Linked DNA regions of Homo sapiens. The protein of the gene in region 1 interacts with the protein of each later gene in a pairwise test. Each region holds a gene or a part of one and is shown on either strand. Other genes may lie near its edges.

Region 1 (12,565 bases):
GGAGTTCAAGACCAGCCTGGGCAACATGGTGAAACCCTGCCTCTACTAAAATACAAAAAAACCCTGTCTGTACTAAAATACAAAAAATCAGCTGGTGGTAGGCACCTGTAATCCCAGCTACTCAAGAGGCTGAAGCACGAGAATTGCTTGAACCCGGGAGGTGGAAGTTGCAGTGAGCAGAGATCTTGCCAATGCACTCAGTCTGGGACACAAAGTGAAACTCCGTTTCAAAAAAAAAAAAAATCCACTTTACTAGTCCTAGTTCACAGCTCTACTTCTGTGATTTGATTTTTTAATTTAATTACATCAATCTGGAACATGCCTCTCCGGTAACTGTGAGAGCCTCATGTCTAAGTTTTATATAACTATATGCTTCAAGTTAAATTGTCCCAATCTTTCTGATGTTTCCTTTGATTACACCTCCTGATGAATTTGCCTAAAGCATGCTACCAAACCTTTTTCACATTATAGCATATAAGGAAAATGCTAACATCTATAAAACACAACACAGCAAACCAATAAGGCTGTTGGCAGTTACTCTCCAGCTAATGTATAAATAAAATGATTGACAGTGGCGACTATATGATTTTTCCTTTGAATTCCAAAACCTTCTTTGTACAATGTTTACTTAGCACAAAGGTATAAAGAAACTACTTTGTAGGCCCTATGCTAATTCATTATCTCACTTAACCTTCCTAACCACCTCGTGAATTTTTTACTCCTCTTCCCTTTTTGCACATGAGGAAGCAGGAGCTCAAAAAGTTACAAACTTTCCAAAATCACAGATAGTAAGTAACAACCAATACACAAATTCAGCTCTGTCAGATTTCTTACTTTCCCACCTTTTAAAAATTCTTCTTGTCTTTAAATAGTAACTAAATGCAATAGAAATAGCAGAATAGTAACTATCATAGCATATTGTATGATCATGGCTTGTAAACTAGTAAAGTTATCAGGGCTAGGTTTTTAATATTCAGAGTGCATATTAAAATAATGAGTGAAAAATTTTTAAGTTAAAATGATATTTTTAATAATTTTATATTAAAAATAATTCTTAAACACTTTTATATAAATTAGCACAAAGGAATGAATAGTTTCCTAAAAGCATGGTTAAACACTTTAAATATTACTAATGAAAAGTATACAATTAAATATTTTGAAGTTCTTAACTTTCTCATTAAGATACAATTTTTAATTATAACAATTTAAATAAAATTTTCCTGCTCCATAAACTACTAGAAGAGATGGCAGAAACTGTTTACAATGAAAACAGTCAACAATACTGTCCCAACTGCTTAATTCTAACATATCACTATTGCCTAAAATCTGCAAAGCATTTTGCAATGCATTTTGAGAACTACAAAGATGAAAGAATGAAATTAATGATTCTCAAGAGCTTAAAATCCAGCTAGAAAGATAAGAGATGTAGGGGGAAAAAAAAAGATAGCATCAGGCATCTCATAAATGTGAAAAAAAAAAAAAAAGAGAGTGACCACAACAGTTAGAATATGGACAGAATGCTAGAGAAACAGTGTAAGTGACTTTTAGAGGATACATTCAAGATTATAATACATAAACAATAATTCTCAGCATCCAAAAGAAACATAAAAATGAGGATGCAACCTTTATTATCATCTTAAATCATTTTAAATTAATATTCATATGCTGTAAACTTTCATGAATTTATACAAGACAACATACAAATGAAACCAAATTGAGAAAGAGCACAAAATAAGTTTATTTCATAGGATAGAAAAACCCATGTGAAAGGGATTTTCCCAGTTCAGAGCAACAGAGAAAATGGGTAATAAAAGATAATAGCAGAAGATACAGGCAGTCATGCTAGAATCCATAAAACATACCTACACATTCTTGCTGTAAAATAAATCTCAAAAAGTCCCCCCTCAACAGAATGGAGAATCCAGAAATCAAGCTGCACACCTGCAGCCATTTGATCTTTGACAAAATCAACAAAAATAAGCAATGGAGAAAGGACTCTCTATTCAATAAATGGTGCTGGGAGAGCTGGCTAGCCATATGCAGAAGAATGAAACTGGGCCCAGATCTTTCACCATATACAAAAATTAACTCAAGATGGGTAAAGATTTAAATGACCTTAAACTATAAGAATCCTAGAAGAAAACCTAGAAAACACCATTGTGGGCATCACCCTTGGGAAAGAATTTATGACTATGTCCCCACAAGCAATTGCAACAAAAACAAAAATTGAAAAGTGGGAGCTAATTAAACTAAAGAGCTTCTGCACAGAAAACAAAAACAAAAACTACCAACAGAGTAAACAGACAACCTACAGAATGTGAGAAAATATTCACAAACTATGCATCTGATAAAGGTCTAATATCCAGAATCTATAAGGAATTTAAATAAATTGAACATGTAAAAAACAACCCCATTAAAAAGTCGGCAAAGGACATGAACACACACTTCTCAAAAGATATACAAGTGGTCAACAAACATGAAGAAATGCTCCATATCAGTAATCATAAGAGAAATGCAAATCAAAACCACAATGAGAGGCCATCTCACACCAGTCAGAATGGCTATTACTAAAAAGTCAAAAAGAAAAAAAAAAAAAAGATGTTGGAGAGGCTGTGGAGAAAAGGGAACACTTATATGCTGCTGGTAAAAATGGAAATTAGTTCAGCCACTGTGGAAAGCAATTTGGAGAGTTCTCAAAGAACGTAGAGTATTATTTAACCCAGCAATCCCATTACTGGGTATATACTCAAAGGAAAATAAATCATTGTATGCAAAAGACACATGCACTCTGATCTTTATTGCAGCACCATTCACAATAGCGAATACATGGAATCAACCTAGGTACTCATCAGTGGTACATGGGATAAACAAAATGTGGTATACATGCACCAGGGAATACTATGCAGCCATAAAAAAGAAGAAACTTTTATCCTTTGCAGCAACATGAATGCAGCTGGAGGCAATAATCCTAAGCAAATAAATGGCAGGACAGAAAACCATACACCATATGTTCTCATTTATAAGTGGGAGCTAAACGCTGGGTACTCATAGACATAAAAATGGCAACAACAGAAAGTGGGGACTATTAGAGAGGGGAGGGAGGGAGAAGGAAAAGGATTGAAAAACTACTAGTTATTATGCCCAGTACCTGGGTGATGGGATCAATCATAACCTGAAAACCTCAGCATTACACAATATACTCAGGTAACAAACCTTCACATGTACTCCATGAATCTAAACTAAAAGTTGAAAAAACAGTCCCTCTTCAAAATGATAAACAAAAATAAGGTAAGAATGGCAGAAAATTAAAAAAAAAAAAACAAAGTTAAAGTTAAATAAGTATTCTTAAGATAGTATAAAATGTAATACAAATATTAAAATATCTAATAATAATCACTTAGATCAAAATGAGCAGATAATAGTGTAATATGCTGTCATATATGAATCTGTAAGGTAACTAAGCTCATAAAAAATTACTTCAAAATCGATTTTTTGAGTGGGAAAACGAGTCAGAAAGTAGAGTCAGAGTGGCAATAACAAAAGTTACTGTTTCTGTAGAAATTTCTATTTAAAATGTATATGTCAAAAGGCACATATCAAGTTTGTAGCTGTAAACTAAAATTAATTCAATAATCAAAACTGGCCAAGGACTTCATTTTCTTTCCTTTAACCCCATACATTCAGTCACTTCTACTCCCCCTCCTTCACCTTCACTCTTCACTTTGCAAATTTGCTAAAAGAAAGGTTCACAATTGTCAATGATTAAGAAAAGGAACTCAAGAACGCATGCGTAAATTTAAGTACCACCATGCCAACAGAGCAACTTTTAGCTGCTGAGGGCCTCATGCTTATTCTCGAAAGCTTATTTAGGGCTAGTTCTGATCATGACTCGTTATCACTGTATCTGCCACTGAAATGTGACAATATTTTCTGATAAATCTACGATGTTATATTCAACTTGTGCTCTGAAGATAATAAGAAAATGTCAGCATTTCACACGCTGAGGGAAATAGAGGCGTAAAGGAGGAAGGAAGTAGTAATGCCCATGACATTTCTCCTCTTAGAAAGATACTACTTTATTCTTGATTGTAAGAGAAATACAGTTCAAATATTTTAAATACTTAAATTTGGTCATAGTAGAATACAAACAGGACATAAAAGTTTCCAAATTACTAGAGAAAAAGAAAAAAACTCATCACTATAACTAGAAGAAAAGTGAAAAGGAAACTACTGGAAAGTAATAACAAAAATATTAAAAAAGGTTATAAAACAGACTTTAGACACATCCAAAATACATCCAAAATGTTAATAATGGTCACCTCAAGATTTTGGTATATAATATAACTTTTCTGTTTTTCCCCCTAAATTTATTACAAAGAATATGGATTACTTTTGAAATAAAAGAATTATACTAAAAACTATTTCAGACAAAACTAAAAGCAACTATCTGTCTTCAAGCGTACGATTCCTCAACCCGTGTATTTCAAAAAACCATGTGAATCAAACTTACTGGTTCATAAACTAAACCATCTGCAGATGCAACCATTGTTTCTGCTAAATCCAATACATCCGCTCCAACATCTGCATAGAAAAAAGAATTAGAAGTTTTACATTCTATGCTTGGAGGCAAACCATCCCCAATATAAACAAATTAAGCCAACTAACAGAAAACTCACCAAGCAAAAAAAAAAAAAAAACCTCACCAACTATGTAGAATAATTTCCGATATATTTGTCCAAAAGCTAAAACAGTAGCCTTATATAGCTTAGGTGGAGATTATTCCAAAATGTAATAATGTTTTTTCTTACCCAGTAAAAAACTTCTTACCCAATAAAAAAAAAAAGATAATTCAAGATCTCATTTAAAAAGGATAAGCGTCACTGAATTGAAGAGCTTTGCAAATATCGGCAAGAACCTAATCACAAGTACTAAGTGGCTGCTGAACAAAATATTAATTCCAAGAAATATTTTTAGAGATTAAAAGAAATCGTAAAGCTATGCTACAAATCAACAAATAGGAAATTTTATTCGGAAAAGGCTAAAATTTAACAGTATTTAAACATCCAAAATAAGGCAGAATATCATATATTCAGAATTACCACTAACTACAAGTTTAAAAATAAAGTATTTTTTTATCTCTTAAAACCACCAACATAAGGAAAAACATATTGAAAAGAAAGAGATTCAAGGTCGTTCTGAGATAGAATCTCACAGAAAATAACCTCTAATTAATTGGGTAAAATTATTTCATACTTTTAAAAATGTAAAAATTTTCTCTGAGTTCTTGGTCTGTAATTTTTAAGCAGTAACTCATAAAATATTTTTCATGCAAAAGCATTCTTATTTTTGAAAACAGTATTGATTCAAACATTCACTATCTGGCATATTAGCATTTTTCCACTTCTATTAGTATAACCAAGTGAGTCCAGTGACGAAAAAAGAAAAGGGTAACCTATCACCATTAACTTAAAATAACTGGATCTGTATTTTTAAACGCAAGAGTAAACATAAAAGGTGGTAAACTGAAACAGTGACACAAGGATATGCTTGTGAAACATGGGTATAAAAGCTAGTACTCCAAACAAAAAAAGACAGAAAGGATGTACATAAACTAGAATGCTGATTCACAAACATTTCCTCCAACTTTCTTTTAATTATACTAATGTGAAAGTTTTATCTCTTCTCTTTATGGAAAAGAAACTTGAAGAATATAAGCTGAGGAGTAAAACAATTTGTATTATTAAATAATACCACAGTAAAACTTTAAAATATTATAAAGGAAAAATAAAGTACAACCAGTGATTTTTATTTTTGCTTGGCAATTGTTTGAACCATAACCTACATGTGGATTCAGCAAGTTGAAGGTGTACTTACATTGACACTTCATGGCAACAGTAATATCTATATTAATTCTTAATTTGCTGAAAGACAAAATATTAAACATTAGTACCTACCAATTAATTAGCAAAACATGAGAAATATAAATCAACTGACCTATTAAAAACTTGGATTTCAAGCAGAATAAATTATGTCGATTAGAACTTGAATTGCATTTCTCATGGCCAAAACAAAGGCTCTTTAAATTACAAGTTCTATTTTGCCCTTATTCCAAAAGCCTTTCTGACTTCACAGGTTTTTGAACACAGTATCCTTTAATAATGGCAACTCTATAATCAATAACTCTAAGCAACTCAGAAAAAGTCTTAACCTCTTAATCTCTATTTACATAAACTTTTGATAGAATGTTCTTTTAAGAATGTAAAACTCTCAAAATCAAGAATTAGGAATTGTCTTTCTTCTCTGTTTATCAAACACCATATATTAAGCATGATGCTAGATGTTCTACAAATATTATCTCCTTTATTCTATATCATGGAGCTATAAATGGATGGCTTCACAGATTTTCAAGTAAACCACTGGTGTTCACGGTAGTGTAAATACCTGGCTTAAGATCACATCACCATTAAAGTGGCATACTGGAAACTAGGTCTATGTAACTCAGGATAAATGCAACCAAACTACCAAAAGTAAATCACCTGATGCTTAAAATTTTTCATGGCCTTTCATTTTCAAATGATTAGATCAAAGCAATTTTCGAATACCAGAATGAAGCATTGCGAATAATAGACTGGCTATGATCAAATTCAGTCCTGTGCTTTCTATGATAACTTTTTTCTGTGTAATAATTTTCATCTGATTTAAAATAGGAATTACAGATTTTTAGACCTTCATGAAGTCTTAAAGTCATCTAGAGTTCAAACTGTGTTCCAAATAACCCAGGAGTTTAGGCTCAGGAGATAGGAACCAGGAGTAGGCCAAGTAGACAAACTTCTGCATATCCTCACCATGCTTATGTGGCGAACTATGTAATACATAAGACTTCATTTGGAAAAAAATGAAGTATTGCATTGGTGCTGAAAACAACAACAAATTCTTTGAAAACCAATACTATCCTGAATAGTACATTAGAGATGAAGAAACTGAAGTCCAAAAGAAGTCAGTGGTGTGACCTGCCCAAGGTTACACAGCAATTTACAAATGTTGACTAATTTAATTCTCATAAACCTCTTGAGGAAGATACTATAATTGCTGTCTGTACTTTACAAAAAAGGAAACTGAAGCATATACAGGTGCAGATTTAGTAAATTCCCTAAAATTATGTAAATGGCAAACCTGGATTGTAATTGAAAACTAAATGTGTCTTCCTATTTGGTGCAATCTTAATATTATAAACCTATTATCTTCATTCCATTGAAGAAATCCAAATAATACAAACGAATAGATGTAAAGTGTATAATTAAGGTACTATATTTTCAAAAGTTTAAAAGTAATCTTATTTACATAAAGATTTAGCTTAGGTATAATTTATAGACATCAAGTCATAAGGGTATACAATGTATCCTTAGACAACTTATTTTCCAGCTCACACAGATCAGTGAGGTATTTCAACCAGTTTCAAATATTAAACAATTTCCACAATATACATATCTAAGGAAAAATATTCCCCTAACTTTTTGAAACAAAGCATGCTAAATCAAAGAACCTCAGTTTTAGAATTCAACCACTATTTAAATGATTCTAAAAGGTTTCACTTAATGCATGCAATTAATGAGAATTTTTCAGGACTATTTCTTCAGAACTAAAACAAACCAAATCTAGAAGGTTAGACTTTTTCTTTTTTAAAAGGTATGCTCTTTTTAAAACAATTTGAATCTAAAGGTATTCCAAGAAGAAAAAAAATGATTACCTAGAAAAATCCTTGTCTACTTCGTATTCATACTTCATCCATGTATCTTGATATACTGAGAATTCCATTATGGTTAATAAAGCCATAGTTGTAAATGCTATTAGAGAAACTGGGAAATCCAACAACAAAAGAAAAACAGAATTAAAACAATAAAAAAAGCAAAGAATAGGAAACTAATTTAAGTGAGATTAAATTTTCAAAAGAAAAAGCCTAATAATGTAACTTCCATTTGAATGCATACTATAGAAGGTTTTTATTCAAAATGTTTATTATGCATTTTTTCTAATACAGCTCAAAAGTTAAGGTTTAATATATACAAATATGAACATAAACACTTGCATTACTAAGAAAGCATTTTATTTCTCCAATTTTAAGGGCATCTCTCACTAAGTAGAGTTGACAAAATTTGTATTTCTTATATAAAACAGTGTCACAGATAGGATAAATGATGAAAGTAAGCATGCCTTATAGCACAAATTTGAAAACAGTTGCTTCATTATTAAAAATGCATCCATGTCTATAAATATAATTTGTATATAAATGTATATAAATTGGGCTATAAGCCCAATTTAAAACAAACAAAAAGGTAGCCTAATTTCTTAGATCCTGAGAAACCACAATAATCTGTGTGCCAGAAACTCAAATAACATCTCTAAATAGCTAACAAAACTCTCCTCTACTTGGCAATCTCCTAAATATATCACCTCATTCACAGAACTGAGTAAAAGATCTGACAAAAAGAAAATCTATTATATACTAAAGCAAAATACTTAAAATAGATTTTGCAAGAACTTGCACTATTTTCATTAACAAAACTTAATCACAAGTGGATCAGAAATAGTAAGCAACTTATTACCCATTTTACCAAATAAAATGTCAACCTTAAGTGAAATACATTATTTTACTACCTTTTCATAGGGAAAGAAATTATACTGAATATTGTTATAGTCACACATTTTTCTTATATATTTCATTATTTATTTTACTTAACTGATACTTTTATCTGTACCAGGCACTGGGTCTAAGCATTTTATGAAAATATTAATAGTATAGTAACCCCTAGGAGGTAAATACTAGTATGATCCCTATTTCATGGAAGAAACTAAGACAGATAGATTTGAATAACTTCCTCAAGGTCACATATTTAGGAAAGGGCAGCAAAGCAGAAACATTGGTTTAATGTATTAATGTTTTAATAAACACTGCCAAAGGCACAGATGGCACTGTGTTGGAGGCTATAGAGAATATTAATAAGAATTACAGCCAACAGAGTGGCATGAAGACAGACAAGTTACGAAGTTACGGCAGAATTCATTGATAAATTCTTCCTCATGGCTACATTTCTATATGTTGTTGACTGGATCACGCAGAAGTTGTACTTACTACAGAACTTTTAATGTTAACTGATACTCACCTGTACCTCCACTGGCTGAAGTCTCTACATAGCTCTCAGGAACCTTCGGAAAGGCATCCAACTCTTTTACCAAACTTAAAGTTTTTTTCCGATTCAGTCGCCTCATCTTCAGGAAAACCTTCCTCTTCCTTCATATAGTCATGCTAAGGAATAAATAAATTAATGAATAAATGAATCCTTTAAAGAGATAAAAAGGTTTCTTTAAATTTAGGATAACTGACAAATGTCCTTAAAACAACTTAACATTCTCATCCCCCCTTAAAAATAAAAAGCATAGTATTTATCCACACTACTCCTTTCCCCATTCATGCCCTGACAAAAACTACTAATGGAAGGCAATTTAAATACAAAAACACATTATATAGCAAGAAAAAAAGTGAAAAGTAATTCAATCACATGAATAATGTCTAAATATAAAAATTAAGATAATGTTTTCTATTAAATTGAAAACTATATAAAAATAATACACTTCCAATAATGAATGACAGTGAAGTAAAATGGCCTGCTCATACATTACTAACAAGAATATAGGCCAGGCACGGTCGCTCACGCCTGTAATCCCAGTACTTTGGGAGGCCGAGGCGGGTGGATCATCTGAGGTCAGGAGTTTGAGAAACCAGTCTGGCCAACATGGGAAAACCCCATCTCTACTAAAAATACAAAAAATTAGCCAGGTGTGGTGGCACGTGCCTGTAGTCCCAGCTACCTAGGAGGCTGAGGCAGGAGAATCGCTTGAACCTGGAAGGTGGAGGTTGCAGTAAGCCAAGATCATGCCACTGCACTGCAGTCTGGGTTACAGAGTGAGACTCCATCTCAAATAAAAATAAAAATAATAATAATAATAATAATGGAAGAAGAAGAAGAAGAAAGAAGGTGGGAGAAAGCGGGAAAAGGCGGGAGAAGGGAGAAGAAGAAAAAGAAGAAGAAGACATTTACCACACCACTCCTCTTCTAAGTAAATGCCCATTGAGGAATTTATCCTATGACAATAACCTGCGGTTTTAACCAAAATTTGATTACGAGGATATTTCTCACAGTGTTATTTTTAAATACTGAAGACAGAAACAAATCCATTGTATCCAATGTACAAATTAAGGTGAAGCATCTTTACGTAGCCATTGAAAATCTTTTTTTTTTCTTTTTTTGAGACAGGATCTTGCTCTGTCACCCAGGCTGGAGTGCAGTGGCGTGATCTCAACTCACCACAATCTCAGCCTCCCTGGCTCAAGCGATCCTCCTCGCCTCAGCCTCCCAAATAGCTAGGACTATAGGCATGCACCTCCACCCCCAGCTAATTTTTGTATTTTTTGTAGAGACGGAGTTTCACCTTGTTGCCCAGGCTGGGTCTCAAACTCCTGGGCTGAAGCCTTCCACCCACCTCGGCCTCTCAAAAAAAGTGCTGGGATTATAGATGTGAACCACCACACCTGGCCTGAAACTCTTTTATTTAAAAAAAAAAAAATTAATGACATAAGAAAATAGTCATGATACTGATACAATAAGAAAAGACTAGAAGGTCACATGGATCCTAACTTTATGGGAGACAGGAAAAGATACATAAGAAACAAAACTGAACATCTACACACAAAAATGTTAAAAGTAGATCATGAATTTTAATTGCCTTTACATATAACTTCAGATTTCCCATGTTATCTATTTTTATAATCAAAACATTTAAAAATTGGCTGCTTGCTATTTATCAGCACGTCATCTACATCTAAAAATGTTATAAAGCCAATCAAATAACTGAATTCTTAGATATTTACATAATTTTTATGACTGATTTATAAATAATACTATAGGTAATATTATAAAGAATTCCCAGTAATCAAGGCTTTATTAATAAAATCAACACATAATAGAATAAATCGTACAGTTGCAGAAGTCACTATAAGAGAAATAATGTCTCTGGAAGAGAGCAGACAGACTTTGGGTCTGAAATCTAATGGGGAGGATTAATATACAAAGAATAGGCAAAAGAAAGAAGATTCATAAAGAAAAAGAAGGGCCAGAGAATGAAAAACTGGCAGTAAACATGAATACTGTCTAAAGGAAAGAAGCTCTGACCAGGAGCACTATTTATCAGTCCAGCAGGGAGCTACTACTCTACAGTAGAGTTGAAAGCATTAATACATTGATTTCCTCTGCCATTAAAATCAACCAACTAAACTTCCCTTGCTGGTTCCACACTCACAAAGCAGCCTTCGAATTATGATTTTTTTCCCATGCACTTAGTATTCGAAAGAAAAAAATAGATGTCATAGACAAAACAGATGACAGTTTTCTGACCCCCACGTCAGTTATAAAACTGGTATTCCCATCGATAAATTAAGCTTCTGAATGTTTGTTATGTATATGCCATGCCCGCTAAACTTGTTTAGCTCTGATAATCAAATTTATTTTCTGTACCTTTTTAGTAGTAACTGCACAAAAACTGACCCTTTTTCAATCTTTCAATTTCTACTCTTTCTGATTTGAGTAAAATATTAAATATCTGTATGTCTCTTCTCTTTAAAACAGAACTCTCCCTTAAACTCAAGTCCAACTCCAACAATACATCTCTCGCAGCACACCTACAGCCAACTTAAAAGAATGAGTTGTCCCCATTCATCTACTGTGACTACTTCCTCACCCAACTCTCACCTCTTAACTAAATTTGCTCTGAGCAAGGTAATTAACTTCCTTAGTACTGACAGACACTCCTCAGTCCTTATCTAACTGCACCTCTGAGAAAACACACTGCTTATCACTTCTTTTTCTTCTCGAAACATTCTCTTACCTTGACTTAAGTGATATCACATCCCCAATTTTCATTCTACCTGGAAAACCCTCTTTGGCTTACTGTGCAAATTCATCTTTCTCTCAAGATTCTGCACTAGGTCTCCCCCTTAACCTCCACACCTTCCCCAAATGATCGCCCACTCCTTCCATTTCAATCTGCATGTTGATTTATCCCAAATCTTGATTCTCTGCCCAGATCTCTCTGCAGATATGTATAACCCCTTGCCTTCTGTTACCTTTTCATTTGGACATTCCAAACACAATTCAGACTCAACAAGTCCAAAAATGAATACTTCACCCTGTAAAAATTGTTCCTCCTGTATCTATCTTAATGATAACACCATAAGCCCAACTACACAAGCCAGAAACATGGGTTATATCTTTAGACTTAAGCTATTTCTAAATTTCTCTTAAATCTGCCTGTCTTCTCTTCTTCAGGCCTACTGAGAAATTCCTTATGTCCAAGTATGTTCCTAGTCCCAACTGCCACAATCTATCACTACATTGCTTCAACAACCTCTAATCTTCAACCTTCCAATTCTCTCTCTATACTGTAATAATAAATTATCTTTTTAATACATAAATCTGATATTTCTCTTCAAATCTTTGTAAAACTTCCCTTC
Region 2 (13,521 bases), on another chromosome or scaffold:
ATTTCCTTGTTTACAAATGTGAATTATTAGGGTTGTGAGAATCAAATATAAAATGCATGTAAAGGTTAGAGCACAGAGATGTTATTTCTCTTAGTCTCTTAGTCCACTGTCAATGTTTATCCATCTTAATAATCTAACGTGAAATCCAAAGGAGTCCAAACCCCAAGATGATACCCATGGTATTCAACTTGAGAACCTTATTTGGACTGTTCAGTAATTGCAAGAAGGGATGATCACTCACGTGAGACACTTTCTTGTGAGCATAAAATATTTTCACTGAAAACAGATCTTACTTCTCCTCCTGGATCCGTTCTCCAATATATCCAGTTTTGAAATTTTCAATTAAAAATTATCTAATGCAGCAAGCCTTATTGAGTGCTAGCTGTATTTGTTGTAGCTACTTAACCAATTAGGCTGGAATACCTTCTCACTTTCCCCCTAGAAAACTAATTTTAGATTCTTAACGAGGTCCCTCTTTTTTTGTCAAGCTTTCCCCAGCTCCACACACAAGACCTGTGTCTGCCTGGGATCCGCTTTGGGAATGAACCTGGAGGTTTCTTATGTGCCCCATCACACAGCCACAGTTGGGTGTGGCCGTGTCTTCCCCAGTGGTCCATGAAGCCCTGAGGTGTCTGCTCTGTACACAGTAGATGCTGAGTCGGTTCTCAATATTTGAGATGACTGGAGGGGGCAGGATGAAAGGCCAGAGGATAGAAACTTAAAGTTACCTGTGCATCTCCTGCCAAGCTTAGAGGGTAGGCTGAGAAGGACAACGTGTAACCTCAGAAGAGGGGGAAGGAACTCCAGTGAATGTGTGTCCAAGATGAAGGAAAAGTAGGAATTTTGATCCCATCGCTTGACAGTAATTTCCTGGTCTTAAAATTTTCTTCCCCCTTTGCTTCTGGAAAATGCATGGCACATACTGGGCCCTCAATGAATATTTATTGAGTGAATACATGAATGCTTCTTCTCTCTGTTTGTCAACGTTTTCTTTTGTTCTTTTTGTTCCTTCATGTTCTTCCTAACTACTCAAGCTTTCCCCTCACCACCCCAATACAGTCATTCTCTCTCTCTCTCTCTCTCCCTCTCTCTCTCTCTCTCTCTCATCTGCTAACTCCATCTATAGTAGTATAACATATGCAGGGGTGTGTGTGTGTTTGTGCGTGTGTGTGTGTGTGTGTGTGTGTATTATTTTCCATTTACAGAGGAGAAAACAGAGTCCCAAAATCCAAAACCGAGCACCAAAGTTTACACAGCTGTCCACACAGCTAGTAATAAAGATGCAGCAAATAAGATGCTATTCCCCCAGAACCCTCCCACTGTTGTGTGCATCAATCCATGGTGCACTTTGACTCCCAGCAGCCAGCACCTGCGATTCTTTCCCCAAAGGACCAGAACCCACTTTGCCAGCCAGTGTCCACATGGTGCCAGAAGTGCATGGAATTAAGTCTCCCCTCCTGCCCACAACCAAGGGGGAACAGGGGTGACTGCCCTTAACTAATGATTGACTGGTGTGAAGGCATAAAGACTACAGCTCTCTAGTCTCCAATTGGCACAGCTCTGATGAGTGATCCACACCACCCCACGTCCGCCCAGGGTGATCAAGCCCAAGTGATCTTCAGAGGACTTCTCAATGTCTCACCCTTACCTGGCTTCTTCCTTTTCCCTGCCCATCTTCTCTGGAAACCCTCCTAATAAATCTTTCCCACAAATCCTCACAGAAAGCACTGCCTCTGGGGACCTAGCCTAAGGCAAGGTAGATGCAGGATTCAAACCCAAGCCTGTGTGTCTTCAAAGTTTTTTCCCACTATGTTGTGGTTGAGATGTTATTACAATCGTGTTGGTCTGCTCTTTGTTCATTTTACAGTTATACATTTAAAATGCATCATACAACCCTGTCTCTACTAAAAATACAAAAATTAGCCCAACGTGGTAGCACGTGCCTGTAATCCCAGCTACTTGAGAGGCTGAGGCAGGAGAATCACTTGAACCCGGGAGGCAGAGGTTGCAGTGAGCTGAGATCATGCCACTGCACTCCAGCCTGGGCAACAGATTGAGACCCCATCTCAAAAAATAAAATGAAATAAAATAAAATAAAATGCATCACACATACATTTTAAATATTTGAATGGCCTCTGTGGTTTCAGGTATCTTGAAGACAAATATGTATTCAAACACTCTATGCTTGCTTACTTTTTCTTACTGTAATTATATTGTCTCTGAGGCAACAGACTTTTGAACATCTTAGCAAAATGAAATAAAGGGCTCAAAGGGGAGAAAAAAGTCATTTTTTTAAATTTGTCTTTGTAATTGCCTCTCACCTGGGTCCAAAATTAAATACAAACTAAAAGGAGCTTTAGCTGTTTTGTGTTCTCTTTTAAGTATTTTTATTGTATGAGTAATGTAATCACACCAGAGAAATTTGAAATCCAGGAGAGAAAATAACACGTAAATAGTCTAATCCAACCATTAACCAACTATTTCCTTTATAAACTATTTCCTTTCATTTACAAACTATTTCCAGCACACTAATCCAACCATATACAAACTATTTCTTCCAGCTGTTATCACAGCTTTTTGCCCAGCCCAGGAATCTATGCATTTGACGTGGCTGTAGACTTGTTCCAACCCTGGGATTTCCTGTGTGTTTTCCTTTGGCCCAAGCAGTTTTCCATGTAACACAGTCCTTGTGGCTGTCATTTTTAATGGTTGCACATTGTTATACCCAGAGGATGTACCATATATTATCACCCTTTTTGTTGCTTTTGATATTTAATATTAATCTAAATTAAATAATAAGATTGTGTTGAATGTGCCATTTTGGTTTTGCTTCTACTCTTTTTTTCATATTTCAGATTATGTCTTCAAAATAAATTTCCAAGACTTGAATTATCAGATAAAGGAACCATATGTATGGTTTTGATGTACACTGCCACATTTTTCTTTGGTCCTGCCCCACCACAATGCGTGCTAATCTATGTTATCATAAGCCAATCTGGAACAAAGGTTATTCCAAACTCAGCGTGGCTTCTTCATTCTTTAAAGAGTTGTGGTCTAACAAAATGAATTCATTTTAAATTTCTCGATTTCATACAAAGGTCTTGAGGCCTTGTCTAGGATGATATGAGCACATAGCATTCCTCATAAAAATGACAGAGAACTTGAAAATAACAAAGAACGTGAAAGTGACATTTCAGTCATCCTTAAATATATGTAGTGCTCATCTTAATTCTAAGCTTTCTTCATTGCCATAAGCATTTCATGCAGGGATTAGTCCTTGAGCTTGAGTTGCCTAATTGATTCAATCATCCTCACTCAACACTAAATGCACGGCACCTTTCAGTGGCTGATGTGGGCTCACTGAGTTGGGTGCATATTTTGTGAGCATTAATTAACACCTGCATCTTGAAATGCAGAGGATAAAGAATGTTGACAAAATAAACAAGCAAGAAGGGATTCCCATTTTCTCAGCTACCCTGTGGTTTGCCTGAGCTCATCCTAAGGTTTCATAACAGAACAGGACACAGAACAGGAAAATTGAGACTCTCTTACAAATTTCACCGATAAGCCATTTGAGAATTCTAATAAAAAAGTGGAAAATCCAGCCAGACTCCCAGATACATGATTCCAGGTGATATCAGACATTCTTGCAGATAAACATCCCATTGACTGAATTTTCTCCCTCTAAACTTTCAAAAATTAATTTAAAGAAGCTTCTTTTCTGTGGCTTGTCTAACCCCAACAAGCACCAATTTGCATTTTGTTTCAAGAAAGCATTTTACTTTAACCCAAAAACAAAGTCTGTTTCTCTGCAAATTGTCAAGCCCCAGATTTTCTCCCAACCACATCCCCATGCCATTCTTGCCTTCACCCTGAGGATCATGGTCAGAGGGGTGATGATCTCCCCCAAATGATTCCACAGCTGATTTTTTTTTTATTTGGTAGGGCTTTCTGGGTTAGGATAACGCTGGATAATCCTAATTACAGCCCTATCCAAGCTTAAACTCCATAACCAAGCAAAAATTTTACAACTCAAAGAAATTTAATTTGGCCTCACACTTGCAATGGGGAAACACACACACACACACACACACACACACACACACACACACACAAACAAGGGAAAAACTGGCAGCTCAGCTAACAGGCAACTGAATGTTGGACACGATGCCAAGTTGGTCCAATTAAGAAACATTAGAGGTCTAATGAGGAACAGTTCAGACAGGACACAAGGTTCTTGACAGCAGCCAAGCAAACTGCAAAGTCTCCAGCCCAGGTAAGTGAATCCCTTCAATATTTCAAAACAGCAAGGGACAAGTAGAACTTGGCTTGTAAGCGTTCTTGCATACCTAGGGAAGAAGAGTCCAGGTGGAGAACCTGGCCAAACAATGATGTCAGAACAAAAGTCCATTTAAGCCTAAAAAACAATCTATGGGACATTCCTGGGTACAATAGAACACATGAAATATTGCCATTTTGCCTATTAATATTTATTCCTGGGAAATTTTAACAAAATCATTGTCTGGGTGCACTTCATCCTCTCCTTCCCTCCCACTACCAGCCCCTTCAAATGCACCTCCTGGAAAAAACGGAACGAAAACAGTGTCATGAAAAATACTTGGGTGAGGGCTTTCATTTACTCCATGCCAAGTATTTTATTTTTAAGCCAGATTTGACAAAGTCCTGCTAAGGCAAAGCAAGTTTCAGATCATACCCTCAGTGAAAATTGTAGCACCGTCTGCTTACCTGTCACCAGGACTGCCTTCTGATCCACAGGTAACAATTCTTGGCCAGATAAGTAAGTATACATGAGGAAGCATGACACCGAGAAGAGGATCAAGCCCCAAAAAGGGGACAGGATGAGCAGGCAGACTGCACAGAGGCCTGCCAGGCAGACCATCCAGCTCCACAGCTGCCCTGAGCTCTTCTTGTATTTGCAAAATACTGTCCCACATAGTACTGTGGGGACAGCCAGGCAGATCCATGCTGTGTCCGAGAAGAAAGTGCTCATTCTCAGTGACTTGCTGCACCTTCAAGTGCTCAGGGCCAGTGAGTCTAGCGGGCAAAGGCTGGCTGGAGGCAGCCTGAGTTCTGTGAACAGAGAGTCAAGAAGGGAGGGGAGAAAGCAGCCCCAGCCCCTTTCAACTGAGCATAGATTAAGCATAATCATATTCCCAGTGGGTAATTTAAACCAGTGTGCACTTCAACATAAATACCAAGGCACTTCCTATTTGACCGCTCTCGCCCCTCCCCACCCCCTGCATACACAACACATGCACATACTCACCCACAAACACACACCTTCTATTTTTTTTTAATGACAGTCCACCTCTGGAGCGATGACTAACTGGATAATAATTGACAGAATTTGAACTGCATGGAGAATAACAGGAAGATCCTCTAGCTCACAGGAAAATACTGTCTTCTTCAAGAGCCTGCAGTATGTCTGGGTGCTGAGTCCTTTTTCTGACTCGGGAGTGAGTGAGAGTGTGTGTGTGTGTGTGCGTGTGTGTGCATGCATGCATATAAATATAGGCAATCGATGAAGTTTGGAAAATAGATTCTGGAAGGGAAGGCACCTCTGATCTGGTCCATAGCTTCAGGACTCCTACAAATCCCAACTGAGGCAGGCTGAAGGGTTGGATGGAGAGGGATATGAAAGTAGAGGAAGATATTCCTTGGTAGAGGAAAGTGCTTTGGTCTTGCCTGAGTGGAAACATGCCAGGGAGAGATAATAATGACAATTAACTAATAGCGGCTAATATCTATTGGTAGTTTTTTGTGGCAGAGGCTGTGTATAGCTGCTTATTTGTTCTTTCTCTTTATTGTAAGCCTATTCTATGCCAGCCTCCATTCACTGGGACTCCTCTCATCCTCCTTGAATACAATATCCTTATGAAGTTGATTCTAGTATTATAGTAATTTTACAGGTGAGGAAACCAGGACACAGAGAGGGTAAGAGACTTAGTCAAGATCACACAGCAGTGGAGTCTTGCAGCCTGATCTCAGAGCTGTATGCCCCTAAGCATTCTATTCCACTGCCTGCTTTAGGCAAAAAAAAAAAAAAAAATTAGTGCATTATGTGCTAGATCTTTCCTACTTTCACCCCATTTCAACCTTATAAAACTGTTTGAGGTGGGTGTTATTATTATGGTCAGTTTACAGAGAGAAAAACTGAGGCTGGGAAAAAATAAATCCCTTACTCACAAGCGGCTTAAAAGCCAGCACTCTGCAACTACAGCACCACCTAACCGTGCTAAGCCAGAGAGGGGTCACCGCACCTGGGCTCAGGGCGTGCCCCATGTGGGCCACATGCCTGGCTGGAGGGAGGCAAGGTTGTGATAAAGGCTGGACTTTGGCATAGCTAGAGAGAAACATTCTCTATTTGAGGTCAGTTTCCCTCTATTCAAATCTAATCTTAACTCCACTACTTATTAATTACATAGTCTTGGGAGGGTCACTTCACCTCCCTAGATCTTCATCCCTTTGGCTATAAAATAATATCATATCCTGCCTGGAACAGTAGAAGGAACCTCATAAATGCTAGTGATTCATGTTTTTTAAACAGGAGGAGAATGAAGAATAAGAGGAAGTCGTGTAAAACAAAGTGTCCAGTGGAGTATAGACTTGTCTCAAAACACGTGCTGGAGTTAAATGAGGGGCAGGAGGAGGAAGGGAGAGGATGCCTTTTGTGGATGATGTTGGGGAGGCAGGACTCGGGAAGGAAGGGACCCAGCAGCGTATCCCCTGTAAAGGGAGGTGAGGCAGAGCCCACCTGGGCTCAAAGCCAACTCAAGACCCAAGGGAGAAGGGGTGGGAAGCAGTGTCTTGTGAACCATTACTGTGCTGTGGGACTGTGGGGTTGGACAACAAGGCAGTTATGAGGGTCTGCGTGGAGTGATGGCAACTGTTGTCTGCCCTCCCAGCCACATGGACATTTGAGTCAGGGAGACGTTACCAGCTCCAGGCCAGGAAGCTTAGGGGCAGGGATCTGGAATTGCCTTTGGCTAGCCCTGAACTCTCCCTCCCTCAACAGACCCCAATTCCTTCCTGGGTGCCATCTGAGCCACAGGGCACCTCTCACAATCCTTGTGGCCTCACCAGCCCAGAGCATCCTGGCAGTTAGCTCCGTTCGAAAAACAGCTTCCAGGTGGGGAGACAGGACTAGCTATGGCTCTTCGCTGAGAGTCTTGGCATTTGGTCAGTGGCTCCCACATTTGGGCTGAGCCAAACACCTGCGCAGGCTTCCTGCCAAGTGCACGCCCACTTGAGAGAGGTGGCTTTTCTCCTGGAGGCAGCCCTTGCGAGTTCCCAGACCTACTCTGTCCTGGGGCTCCCAAGGGGAGGGTAAAATCTATGAGCAAAAGCCACCCTCAGGCCACACAGAAGTCCCATGAAGGATACTCCCTGAGCCCTGATGGTGAAGGGGCTGAACAGTATTAAGAACATGAGCTTTCGGGTCTCACAGACTTCTAAATTGAGTTCGAATCCTGGCTTAGCTGTGAGGCACTGGGCAAGTTACCTGCCCTTCCTAAGCCTCAGTTTCCTCTTCTGTAAATTGGCGGTAGGAGGAGTCTTTCTTCCAAGGGCTGTTTTGAAAAGTGAATGACACCATTCTTGCATCGTCCCTGGCACTTACAGGCACTCATGGATGGTAGGCACTTTTCTCATTGTTGAGAGTACCCACTGCCTCTTAGCCTTTTTCCTCTGAGCAGAGAGAGAGGTTCTTGACAGCTACCTCCTCACTCATTTATTTCTTCTTTCAGTTCAGCACTCGGCTGTTTCCTTTGTCATCCTTCAGATATCTGCTTAAACATCACCTCCTGTCACCCAATCTGAGTATCTCCTATCAGCACGCTTTATTCATTGCCTTTGTTGCGCTTAGCTCAATCCACAATTATATATTTACTTTGATCAGTTTAAGAACGTTTTCTGTCTCCCCTACTAGACCATAAACTTCATGAGGGCAGGAACCTTATCTGTTTATTGTTTTTCCTTTACTGTTCACCACGTGCACAGTCCAGTGCCTGGCACATCACATGTACATAATTAATATTTGTTGGAAAAATATAGGAAGAATCACATCTCTATTGAGAGTCTTCTAGGTGGCCAGTTCTGCACCAGCCATGGAGGAATTCAGTAGTGAACAATATAGACCCGGTTCCTGGCCTTGCAGAGTTGAGGACGCAGTGCTTCCAGGAGGCCTGCTGCAGGAGCAGAGACTAGTGGGGGTGCACGGTGGTGGAAAGGAAGGCTATTTACCAGTTGGGGAATATATGGAATTGCAGAATCCCCAGGTGAGAACTAGCCCAATCCTTTCTAAGCCCTGAATGTCCTCATCCCAACCTCAGGGTCAGTCCATCTCAGAGCTACCGCTGAATGAAGATTTCCTGCATCCTATTGAGCTAAATCGTGTCCCTTGTTTGTCCCCACCATTTTGTCGTGAAGCTATTCTCGAGGCCATCATGGCTTGGCCAGTGTCCCCTTGCTTGCAGGCTTGCTCTCAGCCTTCCAGGGAAAAGGAGCCAATTGGACCAACTCATTCTTGCTAATGACGCCAGTGGGTCAATGTGTCATTTCCTCCTGCCAGCAGAGGGGCCTTTTGGAAAATGCCATCTGAAAACAAAACATCCTACCCAAAAGAAAGGATTGCCGCCCCCCCAAAAAAAATTGCTGGGCAAAAAATGCTGGGGAAAAAAAAATGCTGAGAATCCTCCAATGTACACTTTCTTAGAATTGGTGGATGTTGAGTTTAGAAGAGAACTTGAAGAAGGAACTTCCCATCTAAAATGGGAATTCCCTCTGTAACATCCCCACCAAGTGGTCATCTTGTCTATTGCCAGAACATCTCTGAGAACAGGCACTTCACTTCCTCTGAAGGCTGATTTTCCCATTCAAGATGGCTCGGGATATTAGAACATTCTCCTCTAGGTCAAATTCATCTTGACGTTTGTCTTCCCACTCCACGTGGAGTCAGAGGATGTCTTGTTCTATTTCTTTCAGATATTTGAAAGATATTTCAGAGCTCAAACATTTTTAAAATCACATTGTTACAATAATTGAAGAACATTTTCCTATGATGAGGGTAACATAATGACGGCATGATTTGCCAAGCAGAGAATGACTGTGTGTTGATGTCATAGTGACCCAAAGTTCAGGACATGGACAGGGTGGTACCAGCCATAACAGATCATCTCAGGGACATCACAGAGATCTTGTTGGTAATACGAGTTTTTTGTTCGTTTGTTGCTTTTTGAGCATTAGGGTGATAACTAATGTTTGGAGTGTTTGTGATTGCGCAAATATCATGTATTACATATTTATCTATTTTATACAGTGGGCAGGAGTGGGGAGACTAGGAGAAGATAGCCAGAACTTGGGGCTGGACCATGCCTTTTTTCTATCTTTGAAATAATACGTGGTAAAGATGTCTAAACTCCTCAATTATCATAAATTCCAAGTAAGTCAGATCTCATTTTTTTTTTTTTTTGTATAGGGTTTCAGGGATCTGCAGCCACTTCTCAGAATGGCATCCAATTACTTACATCTCCCCTGAAAGATTAGGCCCAGAACTGGGCACAATATTTTCAGTACAGTGCAAAGAACATAGAATAGAGTAAGATTATCACCTCCCCTATCCTTGAAGCTTTATTTTTGCTTATGTGTCCAAAGACTTATTTGCTCTTTTAACAAAAGTGCCCTATTCTTGACTACCACGGTGTTTGTTATCAAATAAAATTCGTTTTTATAGTTTCTGCGTCACTTTTAACTTTTTATAGTAAAATATCATACACATGAGGAGAAATTATCCAAAATATAAATAAATACCCATTCCTCCATAGTGATATAAATACATTATCAGCTAGGTGGATGAGAAGAGACAAATCTCACATGCTGAAGAATTATAAATAATGGACATAAATACTCCTTACCTCAAGGACTTGGAGTGTAACTCCCCATTAAGTGTGAACTACACATGGTAACTTTCTTCCAGAGTGCAGCATGAAAACAGAGAAACAGAGCAACGTTACCACGTAGAAACCAGACGAACACTACCCAGGTAGTGAGGGTCAGCACCAACAATGGCAAATCATGTTGATAGTATGATGTGATTTAAAAAAAAAAAGGCAACTTTATCATTGCAGAACATTCTATGAAATACCCAGCAAGTATTGGGTCAAGGCCATCAAAAAACAAGGAAATTCTGAGAAACAGTCACAGCAAAAAGAAGCCCAAGGAGACGTGACGACTAAATGTAATGTGGAAACCTGAGACAGAAAAGAGACATGAGGTAAAAACCAAGGAAATCTGAATACAGTATAGACTTCAGTTAATAATAATGTATTGGCCGGGCACAGTGGCTCATGCCTGTAATCCCAGCACTTTGGGAGGCCGAGGTGGGCATATCACGAGATCAGGAGATCGAGATCATCCTAGCTAACATGGTGAAACCACATCTCCACTAAAATTACAAAAAATTAGCCAGGCGTGGTGGCGGGCGCCTATAGTCCCAGCTACTCGGGAAGCTGAGGCAGGAGAATGGCATGAACCTGGGAGGCGGAGCTTGCAGTGAGCCGAGATCGCACCACTGCACTCCAGCCTGGGTGACAGAGCGACACCCCATCTCAAAAAATAATAAAATAAAATAAAATAATAAAAATAAAAATACTAATGTATCAGTATTGGTTTATGAATTGTGACAAATGCCTCAGTGTGAGGTCAGATGGAAATTCACATCACAACTTGGTATGTAACCAGGCTATTTGCAGAGTGGTGTGTGTGTGTGTGTGTGTGTGTGTGTGTGTGTGTGTGTATCTGTCTTTCTGGGGGCATGTATATGTGTATAAACCTGTATGTGTGTGCTTGTGCACAGGTGTACGTGTGTGTAGGTGTGCCTGTGTCTGTGTGTGTGTAAGTGAGGGTACGTATATCCATATGTAGGTATGTGGGTATTCGTGTATGTGTGTACATGCGTACATGTATGTTTATGTACACATGTGTGTAGAGTTGTGTGTCTGTGTCTGTGAGTGTACGTATGGGGTATGGGGCGGATGTGGGAAGCGTGTGGGGGTGTCTCCATTCATGTGTGTGTATATGTGTGTGTGCACATGCATGTGTAGATATGTGTAAGGGTGTTGTACAAGTGCACACATGCATAGGTGCGTGGATGTGCATGTGTGCAGGTATATCTGTATATTCGTGTGTGTCTTTGAGTGAATATATGTGTATGTATGTGCAAGTGTGTATGCATAAGTAGAAGTGTCTATCTCTGTATCTGTGTCAGTATATGTATGTGTGTGCATATGTGTACATAAGTAGATGTGTATATCTCTGTGTGTAGGTATATGTGTGTATGTGAATATACATGTAGATGTGTACATGTATCTCTCTGTGCTTAGGTACATGTGTGTATGTCCATGTGTCTATGTATATATAGATGTGTACATCTCTGTATCTGTGGGTAGGTATATGTGTATATGTGTATGTGTGTATATATGTAGATGGGTACATCTCTGTATCTGTGTGTAGGTATATGTGTGTATGTGCATGTGTGTATATATATAGATGGGTACATCTCTGTATCTGTGTGTAAGTATATGTGTGTATGTGCATGTGTGTATATATATATATAGATGTGTACATCTCTGTATCTGTGTGTAGGTATATGTGTGTATGTACATGTGTATATATGTAGACGTGAATGTGTGTATATATATATATATATACCTCTGTATCTATGTGTAGGTATATATGTGTGTATGCATGTGTGTATATACATAAATGTGTATCTCTCTGTATCTGTGTGTAGGTATGTGTGTGCATGTGTGTGTATATTTAGCTGTGTACATGCATCTCTTTGTATCTGAGGGTAGGTATACGTATGTATGTGCATGTGTGTATATACCTAGATGTGTATGTGTATCTCTCTGTATCTGTGTGTAGGTATGTGTGTGCTTGTGTGTATATATGTAGATATATACATGTATCTCTGTATCTGTGTGGGTATATATGTGTGTTTGCATGTGTGTATATATGTAGATGTGTATGTGTATCTCTCTGTATCTGTGTGTAGGTGTCTGTGTGTGCACGTGTGTATGTGTTTGTGCACATGCACTGCCAGCGAGTCAACCAGTCAGTCCACTTCCAACAAGTAGGCCTGCTCACAGCTGCTGGACCAGAGGAAGGCTGTTGAAGGCCGATGTGGGTTCCCTCCTTGCTCCATTACAGCTCTCAAGCCCAGCTGCTAAGCATCTCCTTGGGCTCTGCAGTCTGTAAACTGGGGATAGTATTAATAGTGTCTCCCTCATTGTGTTCTTAGGAAGGTCATGTGAGATAAATGCTGGTCAAATGTCAAGTACAGTGTCTGGTCCAGATTTCTCATTCAATAACACTTGACTTCAGGAACCTCCTCCCGACTGATGGGTCAGAAATTACCCTGACTTGCATGTTCTTTACTCTTCCTATGGGTTTCTATTTGTGGAGACTGCTCCCTAGCCAACTTTGCCTTTATCTGCCGCTTATGACTATAAATCAAAAAATGAAGCAATAAGGGTAGGGTGAGGCAATCCACTGAAATTAAACATTAATAGATTTACCTGATGATTGGCTTTTAGTCCACTCCCTGATTCATCAATTATTTGCTAAATGTTTATTCCGGACCAATAATTAGAGATACAGACCCCTCCTTGCCCTTGAGGCTTGCGTGTGCGTGACGAGTAAGGCACGCTCCTGCATGCCTTTGTGTTCCATACACAGTGAATCAGTGAATTCTGTTAGTAAAACACAGATTGAAAGATCCCTGAACTCTGTCTCGATTTACTCGCTTGGATACTGACAAGGACTCTCTGTCTACACAACTTTACTTCTCCTAAATACATTAAGAGATCCACATGTATAAAAATATTTCTGCCCATGTGTCCCAGTATTTTTCTCTCTCTCTTTCTCTTTCTCTCTCTGTGTCTCTCTTCCTCCCTCTCTCTCTCTCTCTCTCTCCCTCTTTTCTTATTCTCCCTCCTAAATTTCTTAAATTTTACATCCACCATCTCCACTTCCTTTCCTCATTCTTGGAAAGGAACAGAGTGTGAGAATTCTACCCTGAACAGGGGGAGCTCATAGAATGGATGCCCCTCTATTACTAGGCTGAATGTTTTTCCAGCCCCTTTCAACAGCAGAGGGGAGTCCTTGCAACCCCTTCCACATTGGTCAGCCAAGCCAGAGCAACCCTCTGTCAGGGCAGTGATGATAGCGTGACCTCCTGAAGTGGTTCTTAGATGGCGTCTGGAGAGAGTGCTCACTTTCCCTGGTCCATGGTGAGAGGACATCAGCAGGAAGGACAACATATTGAATTTCCGTAAGAAAATTCACCTCACTGAAGGGACTGACTTCAGAGATGATAGCCTTCCTCCTCTTTCAGGCATTAAAATAGCTTTTTGTATATGAGACCACTGTGGTAGGTGATCACACTTAACGGTTGTTGCTGTTTGATGCCCTTACTTGGCAAAATTAAAAGTTGGCAAGCCT

What was found.
Region 2: the proteins of ERGIC2 (region 1) and HSD17B2 interact in binary tests that used the Homo sapiens proteins (3 or more experiments, as listed by UniProt).

Annotation. Positions count from the first base shown.
Region 1 is NC_000012.12:29,362,367-29,374,931, forward strand, and holds part of ERGIC2 (endoplasmic reticulum-Golgi intermediate compartment protein 2), read right to left. Parts: intron 9,305-12,565; 5' UTR 9,268-9,304; coding exon 9,162-9,267; intron 7,857-9,161; coding exon 7,748-7,856; intron 5,922-7,747; coding exon 5,875-5,921; intron 4,582-5,874; coding exon 4,511-4,581; intron 1-4,510. UniProt on the Homo sapiens protein: Possible role in transport between endoplasmic reticulum and Golgi.
Region 2 is NC_000016.10:82,026,915-82,040,435, reverse strand, and holds the start of HSD17B2 (17-beta-hydroxysteroid dehydrogenase type 2), read right to left. Parts: upstream 5,184-13,521; 5' UTR 5,012-5,183; coding exon 4,747-5,011; intron 1-4,746. UniProt on the Homo sapiens protein: Catalyzes the NAD-dependent oxidation of the highly active 17beta-hydroxysteroids, such as estradiol (E2), testosterone (T), and dihydrotestosterone (DHT), to their less active forms and thus regulates the biological potency of these steroids.